4 separate regions of the Homo sapiens genome follow, and regions 2, 3 and 4 are each reported to be linked to region 1. Evidence: microRNA targets listed by miRTarBase, many of them from high-throughput screens and not tested one by one. Region 1 holds a microRNA gene; each other region holds the end of a gene's coding sequence.

The links. Region 1 holds the annotated microRNA hsa-miR-7-1-3p (CAACAAAUCACAGUCUGCCAUA, at 758-779, shown strand). A microRNA usually pairs through its seed, bases 2 to 8, with sites in the 3' UTR of a target mRNA and lowers its output. Matches are read on the target gene's strand: a 7mer-m8 pairs with bases 2 to 8, a 7mer-A1 pairs with bases 2 to 7 and ends in A, and an 8mer does both.
Region 2: miRTarBase lists CRK as a target of hsa-miR-7-1-3p. Seed matches in the 3' UTR shown: 7mer-m8 at 958-964, 7mer-A1 at 2,491-2,497 and 7mer-m8 at 2,955-2,961.
Region 3: miRTarBase lists ZNF736 as a target of hsa-miR-7-1-3p. Seed matches in the 3' UTR shown: 7mer-m8 at 934-940 and 7mer-m8 at 1,226-1,232.
Region 4: miRTarBase lists C4orf46 as a target of hsa-miR-7-1-3p. Seed matches in the 3' UTR shown: 7mer-m8 at 857-863, 7mer-m8 at 1,948-1,954, 7mer-A1 at 2,133-2,139 and 7mer-m8 at 2,871-2,877.

What each region holds. Positions count from the first base shown.
Region 1 is chr9:83,967,328-83,970,549 of GRCh38, reverse strand. It overlaps MIR7-1 (microRNA 7-1), which reads left to right and starts at 693; the gene lies at 693-802. HNRNPK (heterogeneous nuclear ribonucleoprotein K) reads left to right here. Exons shown (of 17, transcript NM_031263.4): 16 at 219-388; 17 at 1,110-2,467. The coding sequence ends at 1,143.
Region 2 is chr17:1,420,709-1,423,920 of GRCh38, reverse strand. It overlaps CRK (CRK proto-oncogene, adaptor protein), which reads left to right. Exons shown (of 3, transcript NM_016823.4): 3 at 271-3,212. The coding sequence ends at 408. Among named protein-coding and RNA genes, the nearest start is that of CRK-AS1, 2.3 kb to the left of the region's middle.
Region 3 is chr7:64,348,696-64,351,933 of GRCh38, forward strand. It overlaps ZNF736 (zinc finger protein 736), which reads left to right. Exons shown (of 4, transcript NM_001170905.3): 4 at 1-3,238. The coding sequence ends at 452. Among named protein-coding and RNA genes, the nearest start is that of ZNF736, 36 kb to the left of the region's middle.
Region 4 is chr4:158,667,151-158,670,150 of GRCh38, reverse strand. C4orf46 (chromosome 4 open reading frame 46) reads left to right here. Exons shown (of 2, transcript NM_001008393.4): 2 at 383-3,000. The coding sequence ends at 538. Among named protein-coding and RNA genes, the nearest start is that of C4orf46, 3.2 kb to the left of the region's middle.

The DNA of each region.
Region 1 (3,222 bases):
AGTAGTTAAGTAGGTTTTGAGCCCTTAACTAACTAAGGGAAACATTAGTAAGTGTGACATAAATACATTATAACTCAAACCTTGACAGGTTTAGGGAGCGTTAGATCATCAGTTAAGATTCTGAATGAATAAAATTAATAACTTCATGCTCCTTGAAAATACAGGTAGTAAATGTTAAAAGTATATCGTAAACACATACTTTTAAAAAATCTTTTCAGTTGGCTGGATCTATTATTGGCAAAGGTGGTCAGCGGATTAAACAAATCCGTCATGAGTCGGGAGCTTCGATCAAAATTGATGAGCCTTTAGAAGGATCCGAAGATCGGATCATTACCATTACAGGAACACAGGACCAGATACAGAATGCACAGTATTTGCTGCAGAACAGGTCAGTTTAAGTTTAGCTTTGTGTTAGCTTATACATACTAAAACCTTTAAAAAGCTTTTCTTCTCAATTGATTTTTTTCTTTTAGAAGCCATGGTGTCTCAACCTTTTGGGGACCTAACTTCTAAACATTCTAATAGTTTGCCTTAATTTTTCTTCTGCTTTCTTACTAAAAATGAAGACATTCAATACTAATCTTGCTGGAAGAAGCCTTAACCAAGCAAACTTCTCATTTCTCTGGTGAAAACTGCTGCCAAAACCACTTGTTAAAAATTGTACAGAGCCTGTAGAAAATATAGAAGATTCATTGGATGTTGGCCTAGTTCTGTGTGGAAGACTAGTGATTTTGTTGTTTTTAGATAACTAAATCGACAACAAATCACAGTCTGCCATATGGCACAGGCCATGCCTCTACAGGACAAATGATTGGTGCTGTAAAATGCAGCATTTCACACCTTACTAGCATTCTTTGTCTTTTCTACCAAATATTAACAACTTTCAATTCCGTTTTCTTAATTCTGTTCTACTAATGTCCGATTTACTACTCATCATTTTTCTTGACACTTAACATTGCTTTAATTTGTAATTGCTAATGGTTTTTGAACTCTTCTAATTGTAATGGACGTGTTTATCATTTTAATTTAGCATTGAAATTGTCTTGATGTTGATTAAGATGTTACGAGCAAAAATTCTAATTCGCACTTTTTTTTCTTTTCTTTTATAGTGTGAAGCAGTATGCAGATGTTGAAGGATTCTAATGCAAGATATTTTTTCTTTTTTATAGTGTGAAGCAGTATTCTGGAAAGTTTTTCTAAGACTAGTGAAGAACTGAAGGAGTCCTGCATCTTTTTTTTTTTATCTGCTTCTGTTTAAAAAGCCAACATTCCTCTGCTTCATAGGTGTTCTGCATTTGAGGTGTAGTGAAATCTTTGCTGTTCACCAGATGTAATGTTTTAGTTCCTTACAAACAGGGTTGGGGGGGGGAAGGGCGTGCAAAAACTAACATTGAAATTTTGAAACAGCAGCAGAGTGAGTGGATTTTATTTTTCGTTATTGTTGGTGGTTTAAAAAATTCCCCCCATGTAATTATTGTGAACACCTTGCTTTGTGGTCACTGTAACATTTGGGGGGTGGGACAGGGAGGAAAAGTAACAATAGTCCACATGTCCCTGGCATCTGTTCAGAGCAGTGTGCAGAATGTAATGCTCTTTTGTAAGAAACGTTTTATGATTTTTAAAATAAATTTAGTGAACCTATTTTTGGTGGTCATTTTTTTTTTAAGACAGTCATTTTAAAATGGTGGCTGAATTTCCCAACCCACCCCCAAACTAAACACTAAGTTTAATTTTCAGCTCCTCTGTTGGACATATAAGTGCATCTCTTGTTGGACATAGGCAAAATAACTTGGCAAACTTAGTTCTGGTGATTTCTTGATGGTTTGGAAGTCTATTGCTGGGAAGAAATTCCATCATACATATTCATGCTTATAATAAGCTGGGGATTTTTTGTTTGTTTTTGCAAATGCTTGCCCCTACTTTTCAACAATTTTCTATGTTAGTTGTGAAGAACTAAGGTGGGGAGCAGTACTACAAGTTGAGTAATGGTATGAGTATATACCAGAATTCTGATTGGCAGCAAGTTTTATTAATCAGAATAACACTTGGTTATGGAAGTGACTAATGCTGAAAAAATTGATTATTTTTATTAGATAATTTCTCACCTATAGACTTAAACTGTCAATTTGCTCTAGTGTCTTATTAGTTAAACTTTGTAAAATATATATATACTTGTTTTTCCATTGTATGCAAATTGAAAGAAAAAGATGTACCATTTCTCTGTTGTATGTTGGATTATGTAGGAAATGTTTGTGTACAATTCAAAAAAAAAAAAGATGAAAAAAGTTCCTGTGGATGTTTTGTGTAGTATCTTGGCATTTGTATTGATAGTTAAAATTCACTTCCAAATAAATAAAACACCCATGATGCTAGATTTGATGTGTGCCCGATTTGAACAAGGGTTGATTGACACCTGTAAAATTTGTTGAAACGTTCCTCTTAAAAGGAAATATAGTAATCTTATGTATTTTTTTGTGTGAAGTGTTTTTCTAGCATTTATAAGTGAAAGCTGGCAGGGGTGGTAGTTGGGCTCATAATTAACGTGGTAATTTAGCAAAATGAGAGCCTAGTCATCCAATTTTTTTTTTCTTATAGTCAGCCAGAGCTTTCCTCATTACCTATGAGAAATTTTGAGTGAGTTACTTGGTTCCTTTCTCTAAAATAGCTTTAGTTTGATGTTTGAGAATATCGGAGATAATGTAAAATAACTGCAGAGTATGGTTCCCGGCTCATATTTCTGAAGTACTACTTATTAACCTCCAGCTGTCCAGAAAGCTTGAAAACTGTTTTTGTTTTGTTTTGTTTTGTTTTTTGAGACAGTGTCTTGCTGTTTTTCCCAGGCTGGAGTGCAGTGGCATAATCTTGGCTCACTGCAACCTCCATCTTCTGGGCACAAGCAATCTTCCTGCCTCAAAACAGATGAACAACTATATAGGAAAGGAGTCATGAATGTAATTATTGAATTTAGGTCAGAGGCTTGTGTATAATAAAAGTAACAGTTGGGCAGTTCTAGAATTCATGTAAGTATTAATAGTATGAACAGAATAATGTCTTTTAAGGGAAGTAGAGTTGAGTGACATTTAGTTTGGGGAGGGACGTAGAGTGATCTTTTGATTAATGAAGAACATGAAGTAAATGTCAAAATATTACTTAAAACTAGTGAATGCTACCTGTGGTATGGTTTCCCCAGTGTGGTTGAGTTGGGGTTGCTCAGGGTGAAAT
Region 2 (3,212 bases), not on the chromosome of region 1:
TCCTTTTTTAATCAAAAAGTATCATTATCTGGAATCCCTTTTACTTTCTGTATTCTCTGTTTTTCCACACTGCTAAAAACACTTTTCCTTCTGCCTGCATTAACCACAAGTAATCAGTCTGGTGGCTGGGGCTGGGGAGGCAGCAAATGGCCATTTCTGTAATATCCCTAGAGCAGTCACATGGGCAGGGTGTGCCTAACCAGAGAATGGAGTTGTTCAGCTTGCATTCCTACCTGGAAATAAAGTGCTCTCCTTATTCTCCTCCTGCAGGTCGGTGAGCTGGTAAAGGTTACGAAGATTAATGTGAGTGGTCAGTGGGAAGGGGAGTGTAATGGCAAACGAGGTCACTTCCCATTCACACATGTCCGTCTGCTGGATCAACAGAATCCCGATGAGGACTTCAGCTGAGTATAGTTCAACAGTTTTGCTGACAGATGGGAACAATCTTTTTTTTTTTTTTCCAACTGCCATCTATACAATTTTCTTACAGATGTCAAAAGCAGTCTAGTTTATATAAGCATTCTGTTACCTGTGATATTTTTTAGACTGAACTGCTCCATTCCTAGTCTTAATTACCATATTCAGGGTACGAACTGGAGGGCTTGTGTGTTAGCTTCTGAATTGGCAATTGGAGGCGGTAGTGGTCGTGCCTGTGTGTATCAGAAGGGATAGGTATCTTGCCTCCTTTCTCTCAGGCAGTGCAAATCACCCTGTGGAAAACCGATGGACAGGAAGGAGTGTTACACACTGCTTACCCTGATTTATTCAGTGGTTTTGTTTTCATTCTGGAACCATACTATCAAATGGCGACAGACTGTTCCGTTCCACCCCCGTGAAGTAATCATGCACCGTGTGAATAGTATCAAGCAGGATTGCTTTCATTGTATGGAGCATGACCAGCGTGTGACTCATTCTGACATTTCAGATCCTAAGAATTCTAAGAACACTACTAGAAGCATTTGTTCCCTCCTAGTCAATGCTTCATACTTTTTCTTGGGATTCTTTTAGCCCTTGACATTCTTGTCCCCCAAACCTGTAAGTAGGTGAATTCCTAAGATAAGTGTGTATTTTCATTCCAGGTGAAAAGCAGGATGTACCGAGCACTTTATTCAGTGCATAGCTTTAAGCCAGTGTTGGATTCACTAAGTGGACAGCCAGTCTCCCAGCTCTCTGCCTTCCCCAAAAGGGTCGTAGTAGGTCACCCTTCTACAGCAGCTAACTAGAGTCCTAACTAATGGGATCCAGCAGGGCCATTTCTCCAGAGGGCCAGTATCCTATTAGGAGACTCTTGGAATTCTTAGGTTCTACTCAAGAGTGGAAGGACCAATCACCTCTGATATTCTGTGGAAGGTTTTGGGGTCAAATTCTGCCCTCTGCATTCTGTGCAACTTGTATAAAAGTCAAGTTAGTATTACATGAATTTGGGGTAGGGTTAGTGCTTTGAAAAAATGTTGAACCGGCTGGGCGCGGTGGCTCACGTCTGTAATCCCAGCACTTTGGGAGGCCGAGGCGGGTGGATCATGAGGTCAGGAGTTCGAGACCAGCCTGGCCAACATAGTGAAACCCCATCTCTGCTAAAGATATAAAAAATTAGCCCGGCGTGGTGGTGCACGCCTGTAATCCCAGCTACTCGGGAGGCTGAGGCAGGAGAATTGCTTCAACCTGGGAGGTGGAGGCTGCAGTGAGCCGAGATCGCACCACTGCGTTCCAGCCTGAGCGACAGGGCAAGACTCAGTCTCAAAAAAAAAAAAAAGGAAAAAAAAAAGAAAAAAAAATGTTGAACCAATTGTGAATTACTTATGTATTATTCATTTCTCATGGGGAGAGTAATGCTGTTGAAGAACATTACATTGTAAACTGCCTTCATTTTTGGCTCTTTGTTTATGTTCAGGTTTAGTTTACAAACCCATTTAAGTATGGAATGATTTATATGGGGTCAGGTGCTCCACAAAATAGACCTATGAGACCAAAAATGACCTAGGCTATTTAGACGACAGCATGAAACTTCCACGTTAGTTCTCAGTCTATAAAGGCACTTACCGGTCTCTGGTGTGGTATGACCAATAGAAACACCTTATAGTTTGCTTTGGACCTCATTTTGGAAAAATAATCTGCCTTTCTAATTGTTCTGCATAGGTTAAAATGATAAATTTACATTCTTTGAACCTATACCAGATTGTGGTGTCCGAGTGACCGGCACACTGTCTGACACACAGTCAGTGTGCACGTATTTGTCTGAGTGAATGAGGAGACCTGAGAAACCGGTGACGTGGCACAGGGAAGCCAGCTGGCCCAGGATTCCGTACATGGCCGCAAGCAGACTAACGCGTTGACGCTAATTTAATGTATTTTACCTCACACTAAGGTCATGCTTGATAAAGACGTTAAACTCAACTTGTAAAATGGTAGCCCAGTGCTATGCACAGAGTGGGTGCTCATTAGTGTTGAATGAACACATTTGTAATACTACATGTAATTCCATCTGACTGCTTTGTTAAATTTTCAGTTAGAACGTAGATACTGTAAAGTCCACACACACATTAAATCTTGTTTTCCTGAAAGTATGGCATCAAAAATACTTGTAGAAAAACCTTGTCACAACTGATTTGAATGTTCCTATTTTCTTTTCCTTTGACTTTGATATTGGCTTGTAATGTCTCTTTTCATCATATGTAATATCAGTGGAACAGGCAGCGCTACTCAAGTCCTAAGGATTCCTCAGTGATCAGTGATCCAGGGCCGTTCATGAACCACTGGGCTGGATTTGACTGTTGAGTGTGGCAGTTAATGCCCCTCAAGAAATCAAAGGATGTCTTATAAGTGTCTTCCAAAAAAAAGCAAATGCTGAAATCCTATTGGCAAAGTAAACTGAAATTGGCTGCTATATTTTATATAATCATTTCTGCAAATCCCATTTTTTGAATACTAATATTTGACATGGTTAATTCTTATTAATTTGTTGGAATTGTTTATTGTTAATAATGCAAATAGATAATTTTTAATTATCCACAAGTAACATTTCACTGTTAATGGTTTGAAATAGGTGATAAGCAAACCAATTTGAAATAAAATATAAACATGTGCCATTGTATTATAACACTATACACTTTCTTGACAGTTAAATTTAAAAAAAAATTTTTTTTGGTAGCATGTATTGTATATGTTTATAGTATATGTAGTAAATAAAAATATGGCCAAATGTTTGGCTTGGT
Region 3 (3,238 bases), not on the chromosome of region 1:
TTCATACTGGAGAGAAACCCTACAAATGTGAAGAATGTAACAAAGCCTATAGGTGGTTCTCAGACCTTGCTAAACATAAGATAATTCATACTGGAGACAAACCCTACACATGTAATGAATGTGGAAAAGCTTTTAAGTGGTTCTCGGCCCTTAGTAAACATAAGAGAATTCATACTGGAGAGAAACCCTACATCTGTGAAGAATGTGGCAAAGCCTTTACCCGCTCCTCAACCCTTTTTAACCACAAGAGAATTCATATGGAAGAGAGACCTTACAAATGTGAAGAATGCAGCAAAACCTTTAAGTGCTTCTCAGACCTGACTAATCATAAGAGAATTCACACTGGAGAGAAACCCTACAAATGTGAAGAATGTGGCAAAGCATCGAGCTGGTTCTCACACCTCATCAGACATAAGAGAATTCATACTAGAGAGAAGCTCCACAAGTGTTAAAAATGTGGAAAAGCCTTTACCAAGTCCTCATACTGTGTTCAACATCTGAAATTTAATACTGAACAAATGCAGTATAAATGTAATGACAGTGGAAGAACATTTATCATCTTAGAGGGTCTCTAAGAACTTACTTTATAATCTGGTTGCTTATATGTTGGGTACATATATAGCCCTTTGCTATTATGTAATGCCCTTTTTTTTTAAATCTATGTTAATTTCAAGTCTGTTTTGTCAGAAACTAGGATTGCAACCCCTGCTTCTTTTCCTGTTTTCTATTTGCTTGGTAGGCTTTTCTTTTTCCCTTTATTTTGAGCTTATTTGAGATGGGTGTCTTGATTAAAGCATACCATTAGATCTTGATTCTTTTTTCAGCTTGCCATCTGTGCTTTAATTTGGGTATTTAGCCCATTTACATTTAAGGTTAGTATTCATATGTGTGGATTGGATTCTGTTATTAGGATCTTAGCTGGCTATTTTGCACATTTGTTTCTGTGGTTGCTTTATAGTGTCCACAGTTTGTATACTTTAGTGTGCTTTTGTAGTGACTGGTAATAGTCTTTTTCTTATTTAATGCTTTCTTCAGAAGCTCTTTTAAGACAGATCCTGTGGTAACATTTTCTCAGCATTTGCTTGTCTGAATAGGATCATATATATTTTTTACTTCTGAAGCTTACCTTGGTCAGATATGAAATTCTGTGTTGGAATTCTTTTTTTAAGAATGTTGAATATTGGCCCCTATAATCTCTTTTGACTTGTAGGATTTCAGCTGAAAGATTTGTTGTTTTCCTGATGAGCTTCTTTTTAGAGGTGACCTGGCCTTTCTCTCTAGCTGCCTTTAACATATTTTTTCTTTCATTTTGACCCTGGAGAATCTCATGATTATGTGTCTTGAGGATGACCTTCTCCTGGGGTATCTTACTGGGGTTCTCCACATTTCCTGCATTTGAATGTTGGCCTCTCTAGGTTGGGGAAGTTCTCATGGATGTTATCCTGAAATACGTATTTCAAGTTGTTTTCATTCTCCCCATCACTTTCAGGCAATCTCTTGCATCATAGATTTGGTTTCTTTACATAATCCCATATTTCTTAGAGGTTTTGTTCATTCCTCTTTATTCTTTTTTCACTGTTCTTGTCTGTCTGATTTCAGAAAGCCAGTCTTGAGGCCCTGAGATTCTTTCCTCTGCTTGGCCTATTCTGCTGTTAATATATGTGATTACATTATAAAGGTTTTGTATTGTGTTTTTCAGTTCTATCAGGTTGGCCACATTTTTTCTCCAGACTGGCTGTTTTTTCCGTCAGTTCCTGCAATTTTTTTTCCTCCCTTGCATTGGGTTGCAAATTACTTTTGTAACTCAGTGAAGTTTGTTTCTACCCATATTCTGAATTCTACTTCTGTCATCTTAGGCCTTGCTGGAAATGTAATTTGGTCATTTGGATGAAAGAAGTCACTCTGGCTTTTTGTGTTTTTATCTTTGCACTGATTGTGTCTTATCTTTGTGGGCATATCTTTGAGGTTGCTGACCTTTGGGCTTTTTTTTTTTTAATCCTATTTGATGGTCTTGAGTATTTGATTGTGGTATAAGATGGATGCAGCCAACAGGCTTTGTTCCTGGGAGGTTTTTTTTGTTTTGTTTTGTTTTGTTTTGTTTTGTTTGGTGGTGGTGGTGGGTGGGCAATGCTCAGCTCACAACTCAGAGGCTGCATACTCTAACTCCGGGGGACTTGTTTTGAGCCCCAACTGTGTTCTCTGGCTCCTTGAGATTTGGAGTTTGCGAGTTTGTGGGATGAAGGTGCCATAGCTGGAGCAGAGTGCTAGTGGATATGGGATTTCTGCCTGTCTTTGGGTACTCACCTCAGTGGCAGGAGCAAAGCAGCTGGGAAGGGAGTGGGGGATACCTGCTGGAGGCTGTGTGCTGTTGCACTAAAGGTGGTGTTGGCTTGGGGCAGGATACTGGCCAGTAAAGGTTTTGATGCCTTCTCTGTGCCCCCCAAGAAAGAGTGATTGTTCAGAGTGTGGGAGGTTACCCTGTTCTCTGCACAGTGTTAGCACAAAGGCAGGGGTGGAGTTTTCTGGCTCTCTGCCCACCAAAGTTTCATCTACAATGGCAGTTGCTGGGGGTGGCGGGGCATATTGCATTCCCATTTGCTGGTGGGGCAAGCAAAGCCAAACCTGCCTTTGCAGACATGTGCCAGCAAAGAAATATCAGGAGTTGCCATGGTGTCACGGGAAGCTGCAGTATGGGGAAGAAATGTGGGCTGGTGCAGTCATAGGGGCTGCTTTGCTGGAGCTCTTCATGAGTCAGGCATGTCCCTCCAGTGCAGATGCTCTGGTATGAGCTTCCAGGGTACCTGAGACTGCCCTGTAAGCAGCTGTGGCCAGACTGGGTCCCTGGGAGAGGCCAGCAGACCAAGGAGTGCTCAGTTGGACCAGCTTCTTCTGATTTGCAAGACCATCCTGCAGAAATTAGGCCCAACAGTTCCCGTAGGGCTAAAGTCTCTTATGGGAGACAGTTGAGCCTAGAGAAATGGCCATCACTGGCCACACTTTACTACAGATGCTCTTGCACCAAACCCTCTGGCCACCACATGAGCTGGCTTGCTGCATTATCTCTTTGCTTGTCTTCTGGGGGCTGCATCTCAGAGAGATGTAGGTCAGCAATTACTCAGTGCAGCCAGCCCAGGATGGAAGATCTTTACTTTTGGCCAAGTTAGGGGTTTACTGTCTGCTGAGGAGCAGTGGGTAGTTTGTGGGACCCATGGAGGATGGGCTGGCTTCCTCTCCTTGG
Region 4 (3,000 bases), not on the chromosome of region 1:
TAAGGAGGCTGAGGCAGGAGAATCACTTGAACCCGGGAGGCGGAGGTTGCAGTGAACCAAGATCGCGCCATTGCACTCCAGCCTGGGAAACGAGCGAAACTCCGTCTCAAAAAAAAAAAAAAAAAAAGAAAACAACTATACTGATTTGTCATATCTCAGACATAATGGATATTTTTCTAGCAGACCTGTTTCTTCAAAGTCTACTCAATATTAAAGAATTTCTTAGGTTCCGTGAAAGAGCCAGTGCTGTAGTTTGAAAACTGATTACTTTGAAAGAAAATAACATGGGCATTGGATTCAAAGCCTTAAGCTATTTTCAGCCTGCTTATAAAATGAGATGAGAATTTTAAAAATAAAATTATGTTTGACTTTTTTTTTTTAGGCAGCCTTTTCATTAACCAAACTTCTTGAAGCCACATCTGCAGTATCAGCTCAAGTGGAAGAACTTGCCTTCAAATGTACAGAAAATGCACGTTTCCTTAAAACGTGGCGGGACCTCTTGAAAGAAGGCTATGATTCTTTGAAACCTGATGACTGATTTGGCATACTTCGTTGTTTAATAATGACTGCAATAATTCATACTTCTTATGTCATATTTTGTACATGTACCACACATATAGGATGACCTCTGTCCAGCAGTTCTGTATATACTCAGAATGAAATTTTTCTTGGTTTTCTTGGTTTTTGTGAAAGCAGAATACCGATGCTATTTTTGTTGCGGACCAGTACTTGTTTGTCCTTAAATACTTTATGCCTCTGAACTTTCATAGAATCCTTTATGAAAGTTAACTTCATCAATAGACGGTTAATATTAATAGAGCCACAGTGCTACCAGTAGCAAACTAGGTAGACCATTATTTGTTTTGCAACAAGATGCTAAGCATGGCAGACTTTGAAGTTGCGTTTCATCTTAAGGACCAAGGGAGGTAACTTTAAGGTTGCCAGTGGTGGATCCAGCTCCGTTAGGCTAAGTTGTCTACAGCTAATGATTGTGTCTTTATTCTATATCCCCAGCACCTAAAACAGGGTCACACAACATTCACTAAATGTTTGTTGAATAAAAGAGTTAACAAACATAATTGAAAGCTTTTTTTCTTCCTATATTTAGCATGAAGACTGTCATTGTTTCTCTAGGAAATGTATGAATCTGAACTTTTTTGACTTGAAGAAAAACATTCTTTTTTTACAGAGATTTGGACTTTGATGATAGGTTTTAAAAATATATGATAAATATTTTTTGTACTTGTTTGATTTTTTTTTTAAAGACTTTACTTCAGAAAGGGAAAGACTGTTTAGAAAGAATGCATATTTTTTCCCTATTTATTTCTGTGGTTACTGCTTTTGCAGTTTAACAGTGTTTGTATTTGATATTTGTATATGTTTGATTGCTATCTTTAAAGTGCCTTATCAGATTTATGGCTCTGTGCTATTACTTTTTGAGCTTTGCAAGTTGTGTACATAATAATTCTAAAGAAGTTACTTTGTTTGCAATGCATCAAATTTAAATGATGTGATTTTTTTTGTATTATTTGATCTTAGTGACAGTGTTCTATTTTGCATCCTGTATCTTATGTTGCTTTTGGTGTTTTGTGTTGTGTGTCAACGATTAAGCCAACTAATTCTCTACCATATATAACTTCTGGACATTTTTGATACAACATCTTAATTCTTTGTAGATATGGAGATAGGTACAGAACTATATTCTAATGCCCCACAATGGGGCTATGAGAGGGGACAGATGGATGGGCAAAGAATAGTTTTGTTTAACATATTAGGTCATAGTTCTTGATTAGTTTTTTTAGTTAAAGATAAACACATAGGGTGTGATTTCTATACCAAAGATATGCTTATTTCAGTATTAGAAAAATATTCTTCTTACATCTCCTGAAAATTGCAATTTTTAAAATGTGTAAAAATAAATTATTATTAAAAGCACATTTTATTTCCATTTGTTTGGATTCATTACCTTAAAACTTTATTGACATATTTCAAAGATATAGGAAAGGTAAATGATTTCAAGAAAATCCGTGTATTTCTACCATGCAGATGTAATAAATGTTAGCATTTGGCTATATTTTCTTCAGACACACATATGCATGTAATTGCAAATGTTAGATACATTTGAAGTTTGCTTTGTTACCTGTTTGATCCTGTCCCGTTCCTCCCTCCCCAGAGTCCCCAGAGGTAACCACTAGAGGGGGCATAATATAGCATGTGTTTTTATATTTTTAATACAAATATATTTTTTAAAAGCGCTACAAAATATTGTTTTATATATGTGGTAGCCAGCTTCCAGATGGCCCCAGTGATCCCTGGCCTCCTGGTGTTCATGCCCCAGTATAGCCTTCTCCTGCATTTTACAGTGCTGACTTTTGTAACTACCAGGATATTGAGCAAATGCAGTGTGTGATTTCTGAGGCCATATCTTTTACTCTTTTTTTTTTTTTTAAGAGACAAGATCTCACTCTATTGCTCAGGCTGGAGTGTGGTGGCAGGATCATAGCTCACTGTAACCTTAAACTTGGACTCAAACAATCCTCCCATCTCGCCTCCTCCTATAAAGCACTGGGATTACAGGCATTTTTGCTCATTTTTCTATGTTGTTTTTTTTACTTGTCAGTTTTTAGATATTACATATTTTGAATACTAATGATCTGTTATGTATGTTCCAATTATCTTTTTTAGTCTGGTTTGTCTTCATATTTTGGTTATGAAATCTTGAATTTTTAAAAACGTAATTTTACCAATCTTTCATAATGATTTGCTTTTTCTGGTTTTTGTATAGGAAATGTCATAAAAATAGTCCTATTCAGCCTTCCAAAAGTTACAAAATTTTTGTTTTTAACATTTAGATGTTTAGTCCAACTGAAATTTGTTTTCTTTTATGGCATGATTTTGGAATCTTGTTTTAATTATTTTTACATATTTATAGCTGTTCCTCCAAGTATCAATTTTTCAAGTGCAACATCTGTCATGCAGTTACTATGTAAGGGCCAGATT